Regions from separate parts of the Homo sapiens genome. Here region 1 is linked to region 2. Evidence: fine-mapped expression QTL. A gene starts in region 2. The other region holds a variant in brackets. All regions are shown on one strand. Distances are from middle to middle.

Region 1 (9,904 bases), 73 kb after region 2:
CATCTGTTTTCGAAGATGGAACTGTCAGGATTAGATGTGGGGTAGAGATAAGGGGAGGAGACAAGGAAGACAGCCAAGGGTTTTGATCTGAGCAACTGCAAGAATATAATTCCTGGCCCGGCACAGTGGCTCATGCCTGTAATCCCAGCACTTTGGGAGGCAGGCAGGTCACTTGACGTCAGGAGTTTGAGATCAGCCTCGCCAACATGGCAAAAACCTGTCTCTACTAAAAATATAAAAATTAACCGGACGTGGTGGCGCCCACCCATAATCCCAGCTACCTGGGAGGCTGAGACAGGAGAATCACTTGAACCCAGGAGGCAGAGGTTCCCGTGAGCTGAGATCGTGCCACTGCACTGCAGCCTGGGCAACAGAGCAAGACTCCATCTCAAACAAAGAAAAAATTAGCCGGATGTGGTGGTGCATGCCTGTAGTCCCAGCTACTCAGGAGGCTGAGGTGGGAAAATTGCTTGAACCAGGCGGTGGAGCCAAGATCACGCCACTGCACTCCAGCCCAGGTGACAGAGCGAGACTCGGTCTCCAAAAAAAAAAAAAAGTAATTTCTATTTACTAAGGAAAAGGAACCTAAGGAAGGAACATCTTTGTGGTATGAATAAGGATTAACATATGAGATGCCTCCTAGGAGACAGCTAAATGGAGATTTTTGAACAGGCAGCTGAATAAACTGAATATGCATGTCTAGGGTTGGTGGGGTAGAGTGGTTTATGAGGACCAGGCAAGAAATAGCCCATTTTCTTTTTGTTAATCTAGCCCAGATCTTCTGATCTCTTTTTAGAAAAGGTAGAAAATTGGGATTTTTTAACAGGAAGTTTTCTGATCTTTCAAATGTTGAAAAGTGAGAATATGAGAGCAGACACAGAAGTGGAAGGGGCTGCTGTAAAAATCTGAGAGTGAGGCACTATAAAATAGACATGCGTGGGGTTAGGGGCTGGGGTATGAAAACAGATTAAGAGTTTGAGGACCAGAAAGGGCCAAATGATGGCCCAGTGAATCCCTGTGTGCCCACTGAAGTTGAAGAAGCCAGGTGTTGGGGGCACAGCTGGAGACCCATGTACGCTTTCCTAATGACTTTCCTGGTCATCCCTCTCAGGTCACCATCATACCCCGCTTGGTGTTTGTCTTTCCCATGCTTATTTTCGTATGTTTACTAAATACTGTTTGAAGGTGTACACAAATACAGCATGATTTTGCATTTTCTTAAACTTTCTATAAATTATACCATACTCTATATATTTTTGTAACTTCTTTTAGTTAAAAATTTTAAAATTTTTTCTATATTGTTAACATGATCTTATAATGTCTTCATTCTTCGTTCCTAAGTAGTTCTCCATTGTGAACTATGTAACACTGTTTATTCTCCTGGTAATGGGCCTTTCAATTGCTTCTCATTTTGGGCTATTAATAAAGAAAGTAGAAAGGAACATTCTTTTTTTTTTTTTTTAGACGGAGTCTCGCTCTGTGCCAGGCTGGAGTGCAGTGGCGTTATCTCAGTCAGCTCACTGCAGCCTCTGCCTCCTGGGTTCAAGCGATTCTCTGCCTCAGCCTCCCGAGTAGCTGGGACTACAGGCACATGCCACCACGCCCAGCTAATTTTTGTATTCTTAGTAGAGACGGGATTTCACCATGTTGGCCAGGATGGTCTCGATCTCTTGACCTCGTGATCCGCCCACCTCGGCCTCCCAAAGTGCTGAGATTACAGGCGTGAGCCACCATGCTCGGCCGAAAGGAACATTCTTACCTGCTTATCCTTGTGCGTATGTACAGTACTTTTTCTTGCATGTATACTTAGGCATCAGATTCCTTGACTGAAGTCAGTGTTTTTTTGTAACTGTCAGCCTTATAGACTGGAGTATTTGATGAAAGCTATGGCCCTAACCAGAATGTTATACTTAAACTTTTCTTATATGAATTACTTTGTTACATGCCCATTAGTGGCCTCCTTAAGAGTTCATCCTTCCTAGATTAAAAATAACTGGTCTAAGTTGTGACTATTCTTCTTAATTGAACCATGAAGTGAAACAAGTAGTATCCAGACATTCAGCTCATAGCTTTCTGAGCTTCTGTAGCCAAATATCCTTCAGGAAGTTTACTTGTTAGATATCTAAAGGGAAAAGAAACTGCCATCTCCATATGAAAGTAAGAAACAGGACTTTTTTGCATATCATAAAAAATAGGGTTTGCCTGGGTGCGATGGCTCATGCCTGTAATCCCAGCACTTTGAGAAGCTGAGGCGGGTGGGTTGCTTGAGCCTGGCAGTTTGAAACCAGTTTGAGATGGGGTTTTGCAGAAACCACATCTCTGAAAAAAAAACAAAAGAAAAGCCAAGTGTGGTGGCACACGCCTGAGTCCCCAGCTACTTGGGAGGCTGAGAAGGTGGGAGCAACACGTGAGTCCTGGAGGTCAAGGATATGGTGAGCTGTGATCATACCACTGCACTCCAGCCTGGGTGACAGAGCAAGATCCTATCTCAAAAATTAAAAAAAAAAAAAAAAAAAAGCGGGGAGGGGTTTGCCTAAATCAGTAAGGTGCTATAATGAACTAAGAAAATTGAAGGACTTAATTCAAGTTGAAGTATTTTCCTCTTTTTGTAAAATGATGAAATGGAGGCTCAGAAGTTAAATAACTTGTCCAGCTTCACACAGCACAGCAGGTCTCGTAAGTCCAGATCATGTTCCCTTTATGTTACATCACCCTGCTAAAGAGCGGGGTTACCTTTTTCTAAGCCTCGATTGGTCATATTATTTAATTATTATAACAGTTTGATATCCTCTATTTTTTGTTGAAAACTTTAACCTTCTTTTTTTTTCAGCATTCTAAAGAGTATATAATCTGTGCCCTAGATCATGTTTGAAGATATTTATCCATTGGATACTTCTCTCCTACTCTGTATCATTTTCTAGAGAGCAAATGTGCATGAGAGCTGGAGACAGGCCAATTTTTTTAGACCATTCCGTGTTCAAGGATAGGAATCACAGCTCTCATACAGGGGCCTTGGCAGAAACAGCTTTTTATTTAGAGGAGTTTTTTTTCACTTTGTATTGCTTCTCTGGCTATTGAAGGCATGAGTTTGTGACCCCTGGCACATA[T/C]TCTCAGTCTTCTCAGTTGGTGCTCTTTTGCTTATTTGCTTAACATTAATTTAATTCTAAATTTTAAAAAGGTTTTTAAAACTTCCAGTCATTAAAGTATGGAATTGATCCTTTGCTTTCCAGTGAAACGATTACCATGATCACCAGTAGTCATTCTATCAGTATCTAGTTGGGTTTCCTACCACTAATCTTCCAACTCTGCTTTAAAGCTAAAGACTAAGATCTGAAAAACTGTAAAAGAGCTCCATGTGCAGGGCTGGGCTGAAAATAGGAGTGTTTGAAAGCCTGTGCTTCAGTTATTGCTACATGACTAAGTACCCCAAAACTTAGTGGCTTGAAACAACTATTTACCCACAATTCTGTGAGTTAGCTAGGGCTCAGCTGGGAGGTTCTTCTGCTGTTCTTGCTTGGGGTCTGTGATGGCAGGTGGAGCTGAAACATCCAGGATTGCTTTCCTCATGTGACTGGTGCTTCAGCAAGCATGGCTGGGAGCTGTGACCTTTCACCACATGGCAGATGGAGAACACTCAGAAGGTAGCATTCCAGGAGGGCATCTGTCACACTCGGCAACATCTTATTGTGAAACCCAGTCACTGTGGGAGGGGCCCAACCTAGGGGCAAGTGCAGGGAGGCACAGTTCATTGGGGGCCCCAGAGTAACAGCCTTTCCTCTGACAGTTACTTTCTGGAGAGATTAAGTAGACAGCTTCTGGACTTTGGGATACTAGGCACCCCTGAGGCAAAGCATGAGACACCATAATGAAAATTGGGGACTGACTGATTCCCCCATCCCTTTCTGGTGCCTGACTGACAAATAGGTTTATCTTCCAAAGATAGAAGTGTGGAAGATTTCTTAACGAGGAAGAGGTTGCTGGAAAGAAGAAACATTTGAGGGATGAGATGATCCTTTAAAAATTATAACCATGATAATAGAAATGAAAAACTCAATAGACGGTTTGGAAGGCAGCTCTGGAAATCTTCCAGAAAGTAGAACAAAAAGATGAAGAAATGGTAAACAGGTGACAAAAGAAATTAGGGGACCAGTACAGGAAATTCAGTAACCAGCTATTAGGAAATGTGTCCATAATACTAGCACCCTTTTCCAGATGTAGAAACTGAGGCTTTGATAGGTAAATGATTTATGTAGGGTCATGTGGTTAACCCTGGGGTGAAATTTAGAACCAGATCTCTTTGACTCCATTGAGCCATGTGCAAATGGAACAGGCAGTTAACACTGAGTATCATGTAGGTTAGTGATCACACTATGGCGGCACCTGTCCAGCATTTAGGGAATATCCAGTCTAAATGAACCCTCCATAAAAGAGAAACCTGTAAGATGATTAATATGGCACAGAAACCTTTGAGTATGGAGAGGAGAGATGAGGCAGAATAAGTCAAATTGCCTTTCTTTTACTTTACGCTTAATAACTAAGGTCCAAGTTGAGAAGGATGGGAAGTATGGAGAAGATGGAGAAATACTGGAAATGTTGTAGGGATGGGAAGTGATAGGAATTTGTCAGGGAACAAATAAGACCCTCATGAAGTAATAGGACACCAGTTGCTGTGTTTGACCAAGGCTCAGTCTCCATCATCATTTAACTCTTCAACCCCACCCCACAGCCAGGAGCAGAGAGTGTAGCAGTAGCAAGAACCTAGCGTTGGTCAGAGAGAGAAGGAGCAGGCCATGAAGTCCAGGGAGAATCCAGAGGGGTTTTGGTGGTATGCATTAGGTTAATTATCTTTTTACTCCTCCAACCTCAAAATCAAATCATAGCAAAAATTAAAGACATTTTTGAAGTGATGAATCAAAAAACAAGATTGTAGAAAATTAAAGACGTACAAAATCTAGAAATGACACCAACATTTAAGTGACTAAGGTGACAGGGACTCTGGATGCCTCACATGTGTCATGTTAGCTTTTTTTTACTGAATCTTGGGAGGGAAGTGGTGGCATTCTTGGGTCCAGAAAGAGGAAGTGGCACACATGCCCTTTGCTGCCCAGTGAATGTAGCAGGGCAAGAATTCAGACCCAGGCCAGCATGACTCCAAGCCCCAAACCCAAATACATTCCACTGAGTCCTCTTCTCAGAGAAATTAGAGTGATTATCATGTAAATCTCAGGAGGACAGGGGTCGTCATAACCATTTGTTCACTGGGTGCGTGAATGAGCCAGTGCATGGTAAACTAGTGGCTGGCTGTCCATGCATTCTGAGGGTTGCTCACTGAGCGTGTCCTGAAACTTGCCAGCGTCTGTATGTGGCTCGCCACTTTGCAGGTTTGGAGTACTGTAATTTGAATTTTAGAGTGCTCTTAACGGTTTGCAGAGTGTTTTACATGTGTTGGATACTGGAAGATGGGTGGATATTATCCATTTTACAGTTAGGAAAAGCAATTCATGAGTTCAGTGGTGGAATGGTAGCATTTTTTTCACCTATAGCTTGTGCTTCCTTAGAGTTGTTATTAAGATATAACTTAATCTTTCTTTGTTTTTTAAGATACTATAGGCTCTCAAAATATTATTGAATGGCCTTATGGATATGCTATGCTACTGAAATTTGATTATTAATATTTTCTAATGGTTTATATAATTGGGAAAGTGAATAAAAATTTCTCATTAAAACTGTAAATTAACACTTTGGAACACCTGCCAGGAGACAACAAAGGGTGATGACAGCTTCTGCTGTGCCTCTATGCTTCCCAGCTTGCTGTGATGGTGACCCAGGGTTCTCATGATTTTTTATTTTTTATTTTTTATTTTTTTTTATTTTTTTGAGACCGAGTCTCGCTCTGTTGCCCAGGCTGGAGTGCAATGACGCGATCTCAGCTCACTGCAACCTCCACCTCCTGGGTTCAAGCAGTTCTCCTGCCTCAGCCTCCCAAGTAGCTAAGATTACAGGTGCCTGCCACCACGCCCAGCTAATTTTTTTTGTATTTTTAGTAGAAACGGGGTTTCACCATGTTCGCCAGGCTAGTCTTGAACTCCTGACCTCAAGTGATCCACCCACCTTGGCCTCCCAAAGTGCTGGGATTACAGGTGTGAGCCGCTGCGCCCAGCTGATTTTTTAAAAAAATATATAAGATGCTACAGGTAGTCAAGAAAAGAACAGAAAAACCTGGTTGGTAGAGCTTGCTTTTACACAGAGAGTAAGGAGTAAGCTCTTATTTTGCTGTTTAAACATGAGAGCAAAAAAAATATATGTTTATATATGACAGCAAATATATATATATCACTCATATAGTATACATATTTACTCATATATTAATAAATATATGTGTGTATATGTAATTAATTTCTAAGACAAAGCATGAAAAAATACGTAGTCACTAGGTTGTAATGACCATTCTGATTAAATGGGACCCCATTTTAGAGTATTGGAAGACGTTTAATAAGTGATCCCTAGAGGTTCAGTGTTCTGCATTGCGAGACTAGCCCTAGGTTTAGAAACCTAGTGACATAGGCTTGCTGTACAGAACAGTATGCAGTGTGTCAGCTGACACTGGTGTTGGTTTCACGATCCGAAGGAAATGGAATATAATTGCCGTCCTTGTCACACCTTGAGCATTATGGTAAGCAGGTGCTTTCTGGTGCAACTGTTTGTGGTTGAACAGTGTTTATGACTAATATCTGCCATCGTTTTTAAGAGTGTTTTTAAAGGAAAGGGCAACTCTTGTCTGGCCTATTTTTCTATCTTCCTATTAAAACCTGTGGTATGACGTGGACAGAATGTAACTCTAGATGTTTACAATTAACTGTTTTCATTGTAATCTGTTTCTTGCTACTCAAACTGTGTAACCGTGGGATTTCTTATGTAGGATATCTATAATATTTGTGCTGAGTCATTTTGAGTTAAGTGAATGGGGTAAAGTTCTATTTTTAGCCCGTCAAGGCCTAGTGAGGGCACTGGCTTAGCAGAACTCTCCATCACGCGCATCTGTTTGGGTTATGCCCACCAATAAGGACTTGATTCCAGTTTAAATAGGACTTTGGTCACTGAATAAATCTAAAGTTTCTGAGAAATACATTGACTTTTTTTGTCCACTGTAAAAAAATTTTTTTTTCTTCCTGTGAGAAATTGAGACTCTTAAAAGTTAAAGTCTACTAATGAAAGATTATTTGCTTGTGCCTGTTTTCTACATTCATTTTTCTTTAAAGGTTGACTCTTATTTTTACCCTCCCAAATCCAGACTCTTCTATGTACTCTCCTTAAATTTTAAACTCCCAAGCTTTGTATAGAAGTCGATAATCTGGTCCAGATGCTGAAAAGAAGACAAAGCTTTCACATTTGCAATATTGGCTTCATTTTCTGGACTTCTGTTGTTTTAATCATGAGTGTTCATGTTTCTTTAAAACAGAAAAAAAAAAAATCACCTTGTTTTCTTCAGGGTGTGAGCTCCTAGAGAACTAAGATGAGGTTTTGTGATTTTCCTTTGTTTTAAGTCTGGTATAAGATCTCGCTCACATAAATATTTAATACTCTTTTTGATGGTGACTGACTTTTGGTCGTATGATGGACATTTAGGCCCTTAAATCTGCCCCATGAGCAAGATGACACACCTTTGGAAAAACAGAAGCTATTCTGGGAGGTACATGAATATGTTCACATTTTATCACTAAGTTTCATTTAATATGCCTTATTAGTAATAAGCATGTATACCAATTTGTATCTACAAACCTATAATTTTTAAACTGTAGTATTCACGTAAATATTGGTAAGATATTTATTTTGGAATGTGGATGATTTGTAAAACCTGTGTATTAAAACAAAAGTATACAAATACCTGATTTGTACATACCTGGCTGTAACCTAATGTGTCTTTTTGTTGTCATGCAGAGCTCTGGTATCGAGACTTTAGTGGAGGAGCTCTGCTCCAGACTGAAAGACCTTCAGAGTAAGCAAGGTGAGGTCAAAAGCACTGTGCGCACACATGCCAGGATTACATCCCTGAGGAATCTGGATTGGGGAAAATCTTAGAATTGATCAGAAAAGAAAACAACCAGAACAAAGTCTTTGTGTCCAGTGTGTGTCACTAGGCCAGCCTCATGCTCCATCTGCAGCTCTGTTAGTGGCTTCTGTGTCAGACCCAGCAGTCACTCATAGAGATTCCTGCAACCAAGGGAGGGACTTAGTCCACAGGTGCCCTCAGAGATAGGAAACACTTCATGGTTTTCTGTTTTTTGGGTTTTTTTAATTGTTGTTGGCTTCAAGTTGAAGCTCAGAGATCAGGAACAATATTGTCTCTTTCCTTTCCCCATCCTTGCCCCTCTGTTAATATCTGCCTGTTGATGTTAAGACTGCTAAATTACGACATTAAATTAAGATGTTAAGACATGAATTACTTCAGGTTTGGAAGGGACTTCTGTTTTGACTCAGCTTTTTTGAAAACACAGACTTGGCAAGCTTATTTAGTTATTTCGATATATGAATCCTCCTCATACTTTTTCTAACTTGTTTGCAATCCCTAAGAACGAGACCTTCATATTAAGGGTGAGGATCCTTGTTTCCTTGCCCTCTTTATGGTCATTTTGCTGCCCACCAAGCCTTGAGCCTGCCTCTTAAGGGCACAGTTGATTTGTAACCTAAGGCAGTATCCTAGGCTAAACTAAGGGATAGCCCTTTTTCCTGTTTCAGTTGAAATAGCCCTTGCTCACCTACATGTTAAGTAATAGAGCAAATTGTAATAAAGAATATTCTTTACAGATTAGTTTTGGTCAAGATGAGTCAATGTAAAGTCTATGAGTGTAGAATTTTGTGAGAAAATAGTTTTGGAATCTAAACAGATGTTCTGTCCTTCTGGTCTAATTAATAAGTACACAGGGGACTTCAGTCTCTTAATTAAGTGCCTCTAGAGCACTGTATCAGTGACGAGATGAACAACTCTCACCTCTTGGCCTAATGCTAATGTGGTTTAATCGGAGAATTCCCTCTGGCACACTGAAAAAATAGATTTTTATTAAAAAGATCGGTATTGAGTTTGCCTTTTAAGCACCAAAGTCTCTATTTCTTGTTAAAATTAGTTGAGAAACTTTGAAATACATTAGCATTTATTAACTAGATATAAGACAAATCTTTCTTAATTTTTGTTTCATAACAGAAGAGAAGATTCACAAAAAGTTAGAGGGGTCTCCCTCTCCAGAGGCAGAATTATCCCCTCCAGCAAAGGATCAAGTGGAAATGTATGTAAGATTGTATTCGGTAATAAAGTGTGCATTTGTTAAAATCAGATGAATAACTGCTACATGGTTTCCGTTTTCTGTTTGTCATCTTGTTTAGTTTCATTATATATAATGTAAGAAACATTTATCGAGCGCTTATATGCTTGACACTGAGAATTCAAAGGTGAAACAAGATGGTTCTGTCCTTGGTGTTCATATTCAATATTTGTGGAACAAATGAGTGAAACATAGAAGGTTATTATTTGCTAAGTCTATGTATGTACTATTACCTTTAATATTCACAACAGCCCTTTGAGACAGCTGTGAGAAATTAGGATTATCAGCCGGGCACAGTGGCTCATGTCAGTAATCCCAGCACTTTGGGAAGCCAAGGCAGGTGGATCACCTGAGGTCAGGAGTTTGAGACCAGCCTGGTCAACATGGTGAAACCCAGTCTCAAATATTAGTTGAGCATGGTGGTACATGCCTGTAATCCCAGCTACTCAGGAGACCGAGGCAGGAGAATTTCTGGAACCCGGGAGGCAGAGGTTGCAGTGAGCTGAGACTGTGCCATTGCACTCCAGCCTGGACGACAGAGCGAGACTCTGTCTTATTAAAAAAAAAAAAAAAAAAAAAAACAAGAA
Region 2 (9,480 bases):
TAAATCTTCAGCACTGTCTGATCTTTATTTATGCATTCAATATATATGAATTTTGAGCACCTGCTGTGTGTGACGCCCCGTTCTAGGAGCTGAGGAGGCAGCAGTGAACAAGTAGACAGAGCCCTGCCTGTCTTCCTGGAACTTACAGTTAAAGGGGGAGCAAAGCCATAGGTAAATACGTATATGACGCAGCACGTGTTGATTAGCGCTAAGAAGAAAAAAATCAGGTGGGCATGGTGGTGCATGCCAGCAATTCCAGCACCTTGGGAGGCCAAAGTGAGAGGACTGCTTGAGGCCAGGAGTTCAACACCAGCCTGGGCAACAGAGGGAGACCACATCCCCGGTGCCTCTGACCCCCCCACCGTCTTCTCTAAAAGAATTTTTAAAAATCAGCTGGGTGTGGTGGCACACTTATAGTCCCAGCTACTCTGGAGGCTGAGGCAGGAAGATTACTCGAACCCAGGACTACAAGGCTTCAGTGAACTATGATTGTACCACTGCACTCCAATGTGGGCGACACAGACCCTGTCAAAGAAAGAGAGAGAGCATAAGAAAAAAAGCAAGAAGGAAGGAAGGAAGGAGGGAGGGAGGGAGGGAGGAAGGAAGGAAGGAGTGAGTCAGTTGACACAGAGGGGTGGGTGTTGTGCTATTTTATTACCACAGAAGATGTTTAAGTATAGTGGGTTGAATGTTGGCCGCCAAAACATACGTCCATATATTGATTAAATTTGACAAAATCGTTCCCGGCTGGGTGCAGTGGCTCACACCTATAACTAAATAATCATTTCCAATTCCTTCACATGCTAATTGTCCAGATGCAGGGTACTTCTGGGCAATGCAGAAGCAGCCCCGGGAACGGTTTGTGTGGTTATAATGATGACAGTAAGTCGGAAGCCAGGAGGGAGGTCGGGTCAGGGTCTGGCCTTCAGGCTCCGTGTAGGGAAGCCTTCTTTGCTTGGGTGAATCCCAAAAGGGACAGGGATTCACCAAACATAAGAAGGGGCTTCATATACTGGCAGATGGATCAAAAGATGAGTGTTCACTGCTGGAGGGTCCGCCCATTGTGTGCATTTTAGAGAGATGCGAGCCAGCTCGGAGAGAGGAAGTAACTTGTTCAAGGTTTCACTGTGCCACATGGCTGCGCTGGACTCAAACCCAAGTCTGTTTGAGCTCAGTCTGGCTGCAAGGTCATCTCTGAAACAAATTCACCAGGTCGGTGCACTAGGACTCTAGCTCAGGCAGCCAGGGAGAGGGTGATGCTGTAAATAGAGCGATGAGGGAAGGGGCCCCTGTGTGGAAAGGCAGTGAGTCAGCCAGGAACATGCTGGGGGCTGGGGAGGGTCCCACCAGCAAGGCGGACAAGCCCAGGAGGCGGTTCTGGGCCTTGGAGAAAAGCTGGGGTAGGGGAGAGATATTAGGTGTCCTTCCATTTTCATGTTACTTAACAGCTACTGGAGTGGAGGAGACTGCCCTAGTGGTATGCAGAATGATAAGAAAGGAGGTATAAGAAAGGAGGGATAAGAAAGGAGGGAATGGGAGGGACAGAGGAAGAGGGGGTCCTGGAGATGGGCAGTCAGAGCTAAGTAGTGGGGGCTTCAAGGAGGGATGGTCGTGGGTGCTGGTATTTATTGAGTGTTTGCTGTGTGCCGGGTACCCTCTGTGTGGATTCACTTACCCCTTCACCGCAACCCTCTGAGGCAGATACTATTATTATTATGCCCACTTTACAGATGAGGAAACTGAGAGGCTAAGTAATTTACCCACATCAGTGAGCTAATCAGCCAGTGTGCTTAATCACCGTGCTCCCCTACTTCTGGTGACATTGCTGATGACGTTGTTGATTTTCCATGGACTGGGTGGAGGGATAGAAGTGAGGAACAAATTTGGAAGCAGGAGACAACCACACCTCTGATCTGGTTTGGCCCTACAGGGATAGGCAAGCGGAACAAGGCGTTATTCCTCTGTCTTTTCCTGCACTAGGAAGCCGAAACCCTCAGAAGGTCAGGGCCTTGCTCAAGGTCAGACCATGGGGCTATGCCAGAGGCTTGAACTCTCTTTAGGCCTGGAATGATGTTACTACCCCTAAGAGAGGAGAGCCACTGAGAGGAGAGGCTGTCAGAATGCGGGTGCAGGCCTGGGGTGGTTAAGAGAGAAGGCCATGATGTGGGCCACCTTGACTGACAGCATCTGAACTGAGATGCCTAGTTAGTATCCCAAGTGAGGGTCTTGGTCCCATGGGGAGGCAATGGGGAGATTATCTGGTCAGGGTTTTATCTTGGCCTCATTCATTTAAAAGTCATCTCAGGATGGATTTTAATGATACTGTGTGGCCCAGTAGCAAGCACAGGGCTAAAATGAAATCCTGGTGCTGCCTTTTAGTAGCAGTGTGGCCTGTGCAAGCCACCTAAGTCTCCAGAGAAGCCTTGGCTTCTGTGGCTGCAAAATGGGGATCATCTCTTCCCTGCCTGGTATTGTGGGAGTTAAGGACAATGTGAGCAAAGCACTTGGCATGCACCTGGGGGTCAGTAAACAGGAGCTGGCATTGCTCGTGTCAGGTGACAGGTGAGGATTTGTATATCATTTATCAAAGTGTAGCTTCATTGAAATTTTGTTTCTAAATCTCTCTCTCTCACACACACACACACACACACAGGCACAGAACAAAGGAGATTTTTGAAATCTTCCTGCCCAAGTCCCTTGTTGTGCAGATGGGGAAACTGAGGCCCAGAGAGGGAGATTATGTACCCAAGATCACAGAGTCGAAGAGGCCTGGCCCCTGCCTGCCGTCAGTCCGTGTGCCACACGACATCACAAAGCATCCCGGACCCAGCCTCATCCCTGCTGTTCACTAAGCATACACATTACACAATCACTGCCCCAGATGGCAGCTGCTAGAATCCTCGCTAGCATCGAACATCCAAGTCAGAGGGCACTCAGAGTCGTCAGCTTCCTCCAGCATTGCCTTACCCGGCTGTAGGGGTTAAAAAGCTGTGGCAGGTGCTCCTGAGACTAGAGAAATGAAATGAATGATCTCAGACATACACAGGAGACAATGGTTTCTTCTCAGAAAATGCTGAAGGGGGAGTCTACCGCCTCCACACCAACCCTGCCTTAACGCAGGAGTCCTCTGGCCTCATTTGCATTCCCTAGGGATCTTAGCCCACAAGAGGGAGAAAGCTACTGTTCTCCTGAGTTTAAGTTGGCTGATCTCTACCCGGGAGCCTGAAGGAAGGTCGTAGGCAGCGTGGCACACTACAGGGGGTAAGGGGCTCATGCAGAAGAGCCCTGTTCCTGATTGCTCAAGGGAAGGTGGGATTGTTTTCTCCCTGATGTGCACTCTGACTACATCACAGATGATAGTTCAGTCCTGCACCTACAAACTGGCAGGCTCCGTGCTGGGCTCTGGGCATATGAAAATAAGCACCACAGGCAAAATGCCTGCTCTTGTGAGATACAGGTCTTGAGTGAGGAGGCTGAGATGAATGAGGAAACAAACATACAAACGAGATGATCTCAGATACTGATAAGAGCTGTGAATAAAGAAACAAAATATAGCAGTGGCATCATGACTGGGAAGGTTGGCTACTCCAAACTGGGCATCTAGATGTCTCTGGGCAGGTGACATCGTAGCAGGGCCTTTAACAAGAAGGAACCAGCCACGCAGAGGTCTGGGGAGGGAGTTCCTCACAGAAATCAGCAGATGCAAAGGCCCTAAGGTTGGAGTCAGCTGAGACTCCTAGGATTTTTATCAAAATAATTTGGAGGACAGGAGGCTATTTTGTTAAGAAAACAAAGTAAACAAGACACTTTCTTTCCCTAATCTGTCATCTTTCCCCACCAGCTCCAAATCCTATTAATACAAGATAATTCCTACTTAAAAACCTCTTCTTCCAAGAAGTCTTCAGGTTCTACTAGTTCATGGTAGAACTAGTATAAAAACTGGTCTGTGGCAAAGTAATAAAAAAAAAGGTCAATAAACTCTGTGTGTGTGTGTGTGTGTGTGTGTGTCACTATACAGGTGCCAACCGTGTTTCCTTTCTTCAGAACTGAGATATACTGTTATTACTTTTCAAAAAATTTTGCTGTTAATACTCTTTTGTAAAATATGATGTAGATGACAGATATGTCACCAATGTAGCAAAAATCAAAAGCTGACCATCCTTTGCAAATCCCCCATACTTTGGTCTGTGAAATCCTGGAGCCTGGAGGCACCTGTGAACTAGGCTCTGAAGCTCTGCTACTCTCCCCTCCTCTACTCCCAAGTGGCCCTGGATTTCCCATACCCTTTCCATTCTCGACACTGTTTTTAGAGTTTGAGTTCCAGGAGCACAGGGACTGTGCGTTCCCGGCACTGAGCCAGGTCCACAACAAGCACTCAGAAGAAACTGACTGAATGAACGTGTGATTTATGACGATATACATTCACCTGAGCGAATGCTCAGAGAATACAATTAGAAGCAAACTGGTTAAGGGAGACAGTAGTGTAAAGGAAACGAAACCCCATATTTCAGAGCCAGGAGCCTGGGTTCACATTCTGTCTCCTGCAAGAGGTGGTTTAGCAAGGTCAGAAGGCCCTGTCCACTCGGTAGCAGCCAGGCTTGGGTGAAATCACTTTCTTTCAGCCTCAGCTTCCTCACCAGTTAAATGCGGATGACAAAGATTTGTCCCACGATTTTTGTAAAGAACAAAAAGATATGTTCGCAGAAAAAACACTCTGTAGATAGTACGTAAGCGACAGTTCCTCGGTTTGTCCTTCCATGGATGCATGGAGCATCTAGCCAACTCAGCAGATGACCCCTCTCCAGTGTTTCAGCATCTGCTTCTCCCACAAGCCCGTGAGCTGGTGCAGGAAATTCTCCAACAGGTTCTGAACAGAAAAGCATAGTGCCTGGCACCTAGTGGGTGCTGCATAAATGAACAAATGACCCCAGGTAAGTCACTCCTCCCATTGGACCTCTTTCTTCTAAGTAATCTCCCTTCCTTTTCCAGGTCCATGATACTTATTTGCTTTTTTAGAACAGGCCTAGGAGTCACATTTAGGGAAGGTAGGTGGCTGTGAAGACACTTTGATTAAAAGGTTAATGCACATTTTTGGTTTCCACTTTCGAAGCTTCCAGAATTTATTTTTGCCTAGTTAATAAAAAAAGAGCCATGTCACATTTCTTTAGCTTGTCTTCTGGGTTCCTTAACAACAACAACAAAAAATTAAAGTCTTTATTTTAAGCCGCCTACTCCAGCCATCCCAGGACGCGGCGAGGAGGGGGCGCGGACAGGTGGCGCGCGAGCCCGGGAAGGCGGGGGCTGCACCGGGCCGCGGGCGGGGCCGTGCACGCCGAGCCCCACTTCCCCAGCGCGGGCCGGGGGCGGGGCGCGGCGGCAGAGTTCGGGGGCTTCTGCCGAGGGCAGTCCCACGTGCCCCTCCGCGGGAGACGTCTCCTCTCCGACGCCCAGCACGCTGGGGGGCTCCCGCTTCCTGCCTGCCCTCTCTACTGCTTGCCCTCTCACCTCCCAGCGGCTTCCGCCGCCCCGGCCAAGCTGCACGGCGCGTCCCGGGCCCTAGACCCCCACCCGCCAGGCACCAGCCCCGGCCTGTCCCCTCGCGCCGTCAGCCCGCGGCCCACCGCCCGCGCGCGCCCGCAGCCCAGCCGGAGGGAGGGGCAGGGGCGGGGACCGGCCGGCGCTGATGTAATCCCGGCACCCGGGCGGAAGGATATGGAGCGCGCCCCTGGTTGGCGGGGCGCTGAGGCCAGTTGCCGGGTAACGGAGCGGAGCGGCTCCCGGCGCGCCGCCTCCCGCCCTCCGCGGAGTGGCGCTGGGGCCGCCGCCGCCGCTTTACGTAAGGCGCAGGCCAGGGCCGCCCGGCGCTCGGCAGCCGCCCGCAGCCCCTCGGAGCCAGAGGAGAGGCGCCCCCGCCGGCCGCCGCGCCGCCCGGCAGCCTCGGCAGGTACTGCGGGCAGGCGGCGGGGAGGGAGGGCGCGGAGCAGCCCCTCGGCCGGGTGGGCGCGGGCCGGGGAGGCCGGACGCTCGCCGCCGTGGGGCTCCGGGGCCAGCCCGAGGGAGGCCGGGCCGCAGCCGAAGGCTTCGGGGTCAGCCCAAGGGAGACAGGGCCGCCGCCGTGGGCTCTGGGGCCAGCCTAAGGGAGGCCGAGCCGCCGCCGAGGGCTCCGGGGCCAGCCTGAGGGAGACCGGGCCGCCGCCGGGGGCTCCGGGGCCAGCCTGAGGGAGGCCGGGCCGCCGCTGATGGCTCCGGGGCCAGCCTAAGGGAGACCGGGCCGCTGTTGATGGCTCCGGGGCCAGCCGAGGGAGGCCTGACCGGCCCCGATCCTGGTGGTGCCCGGGCGTGCGGGTGAGCTGTGGGCCCTGGGACCCCCGCCCCGACCCCAGGACGCCGGGACACCAGCTTGCGGCTCTTGCGCCCGGGTGGGCTGTGGACGATGAGTCCGCACAATGGGTTGCCGTTGGCTGCCTCCTGCCTGGGGCAGGTGTCGCCGCGCCGGGGCGGCTCTTCTAGGGGAGACGAGGCGGGGGTGCTTAGACTTGATAGGACGTAGAGCCCCGAAAGTGGGCGCGGGAGGAAGGCTTCGGCCGGTGGGAGGCGCCCGGCGTCCCCGGCAGCGGGGTCAGGCCGGCAGCCTGGGCCGCTCGCTCGCGTTCCCTCCGTTCCCCTCCCCTCCAGCATTGTCCTTTTGGGGCCCCGGGAAGGGAAAACCGCCGGGCGGGGGAGGAGGGCCGCAGGCGGGCGGGGCCGGGAGGCCGGCTGAGCGACTGGCGCGCCGGCCTATGGCGCGGGGCGCGGCGCGGGGGGCGGGCCTGGCGGGCGGGGCCGGTGCGGCGCAAGGTTTGGCGAAGGTTACAGCTGGAGCTAGGAGTGACAGGCCCACAGTCATCCGTGCGCTGCGCGGCAAACCCTGTCGCGAGGGCGCCCCGAGTTGCTGCGGGGCCTGATCCGGCTCCTTTCCAACAATACGCGTCTGCAGCCGGCATTTCTAGAGCTCTCTGCTTCTTCCCGCTGGAGAAACCAGTGTGTGTCGTGTTGGAATGCTTCGTCTTGCCCTAGAATTCAGCTTGCGTCTTGTGGTGCGCAGGTGACAGGACCTGCCGAACTCTTGGTACAGACCCCTAAATCATGGCAGAACTGTCTTGATTTCTTTTTTGCCACCTTTCCGTTTTTGTCCTCTATAGGCAAGCTATAAAGATTTAACCCAGTTAAAAACAGGAGGGAGATTCAGCGGAGAGGAGGCATGCGAGATTCTTTGGAAAAAATTATATAAATGTAGTTCTTGCTAATAATTACCTGGGTTGGATACTTTGACTTACTGTTCAAGTTCCTAAGAAGGGATTTTACATTTCTGGGTCTTGTTTTAAAAACTGTTAGAAAGCTCGTGAGGGGGTAGGGACAAGCAGTTTTGGTAATAGGCGATGCTGTGGATAAAACTGTGCGGTAAAATGCCCAAGCTAGATTCTTCCTATGCAAAATAAGACCCGTTCCAGAACACTTTGACCATTTCGTGGACTTAGAATTTAAAGGCGGGTGAGGGCGGGGGGGGAGGAGGAGCGGATTCTATCACTCTGCATCCTCAAGGTCAAATATTCTTCCATCAGTTATTTTGGATTGAACCATTCTTAAATAGGTCTCAGGATCTCTATGTCGCTTCCTTATGACAGAACCTATTTCCGAGAGTGTGCCTTTGCATATCTATAGAAGCTCCTTTCACTTAATATATCTTATAACTCAGATTCAATTGCTGTACTTGCTAAATAATGCATTTTTAATCATTCAAAAAGTGGTTTACAGCTTCCTTGGGTATAATGGTTTTTATGTAAGCCCGTTACATCAGTGAAATGCCAGTTTTTAAACATTGAAGGGAAGGGAGAATATTATTCTTATTTATTTCCATAGGAAGTAGAATTCAAAGTGCAGGTGCTTTTTTGTTTGCTTTGGAGAAAAAGTATAGGTCTTTAACATGACGTTAACAGAAGTCAAATCTAAGGATAATTAGCTTGTTATGCAAGTTGCAAACATTTAAGAAGATCAGATGAATTTTTTTTTTTTTTTTTTTTGAGACGGAGTCTCGCTCTGCCGCCCAGGCTGGAGTCCGCGATCTCGGCTCACTCACTGCAACCTCCGCCCGCCGGGTACAAGCGAGTCTCCTGCCTCAACCTCCCGAGTAGCTGGGACTACAGGTGCATGCCACCACCCCCGGCTAATTTTTTGCATTTTTAGTAGAGATGGGGCTTCACCGTGTTAGCCAGGATGGTCTTTCTCTCCTGACCTCGTGATCCGCCTGCCTCAGCCTCCCAAAGTGCTGGGATTACAGGCGTGAGCCACCGCGCCTGGCTGATTAGATGGATTTTTAACACTTCCAGTGGTAATATAGGGTAATGTAGCTAGCCTACTCTGTGCTATGTTGTACGGTAGCACTCTTCAAAAGAAATTAGATTGTTCTTGTTCTTTATTTTTCATTGTGTGGAAAAGTGCTGAGCCTGCGCTTTGTCCTTGTTTTTGTAGCATTTGACTTGGCAGTTAATGGCTTGTGAGCTAATTTCCTCATCTGTAGAATGGGAAGATTGATGACACCTGTTTCACAGAATAGTTGGGATGATCACTTGAGGGAAGACGTGAAATGTCGTCAAGACTCAAACCCTTTAAAAATACTCGCCTAGTGTAAGTGTTAAAACCTCAGATTACTTGCTTTGCTTAAAGTTTTTAACTTTGTCTTCAGGCTCCTCGCCACCCCTTCCTATCCATTCTTTGCCTGGCTGCCAGAGTCATCTTTCCTGAGCTCAGATCTTGTCAGTCTCTGGCTCAGTAGGCTTCTAAGACTGCCTGTGGTTTGGAGCTTAGAATTCAGAGATACCAGCATCACAATGCAGGCCCCTTGCAGTCTGGCCCCCAGTCATCTCTGTACTTTATCTTGTCCTCTTTGTCCCCTTTCCACACTGTCCAGCTAAACAAGACTGCTCTTGGTTCTCTGAACATGCCAAGCTATTTCAGACCTTCTTTGCTTATATTCTTTTCTCTTATTGGAATGTCCTGTCTCACTCCCACTCCCTCCAGTTCTTAAAAGTTCATATCAAATATTCTGTTCTCTCTGGAGTCCTTTGGAAGTCCTATTACAATGAATTATTCCTTTCCTCAATCATAGTTCTCTATTTTTCCTTCATTATTGTCTATATCATGTTGTATTATAAATTGGTCATAGTAAACTCTGGCTGTGGTGTCTATCCTATCATTTTGCCCCCAACACCTTGCTCAGGCGTTTAAACATAAGTGCTTAATGTTAAATGTAAGTGTTTAAATGTTTGCTAAATAAAGTCAAAGTCTGTAATCAACCTTAAAGAGTATGTTAATATTATAAAGTATATTTATTTTTATTTTTTCTGACCCTGGCTTAAGTCTGCAAATAAAGTTTGTTTGTTTTTGAGACAGCATCTTGCTTTGTCACCCAGGCTTGGAGTGCGGTGGTGTGATCGTGGCTCA

What was found. PIP is the estimated chance that this variant, and not a neighbour inherited with it, causes the effect. A credible set is the group of variants that fine-mapping cannot tell apart.
Region 1: its variant is the best candidate, but not a certain one, in a credible set for the expression of KIAA0232 in whole blood (TOPMed, PIP 0.76).

The regions. Positions count from the first base shown.
Region 1 is chr4:6,849,226-6,859,129 of GRCh38, forward strand. KIAA0232 reads left to right here. Exons shown (of 10, transcript NM_014743.3): 5 at 7,939-8,005; 6 at 9,200-9,281. Among named protein-coding and RNA genes, the nearest start is that of TBC1D14, 56 kb to the right of the region's middle. The variant T/C (reference allele first, on the strand shown) is at 3,108.
Region 2 is chr4:6,776,898-6,786,377 of GRCh38, forward strand. KIAA0232 reads left to right here and starts at 5,830. Exons shown (of 10, transcript NM_014743.3): 1 at 5,830-5,944. RefSeq lists silencers at 5,210-6,089, 6,150-6,919.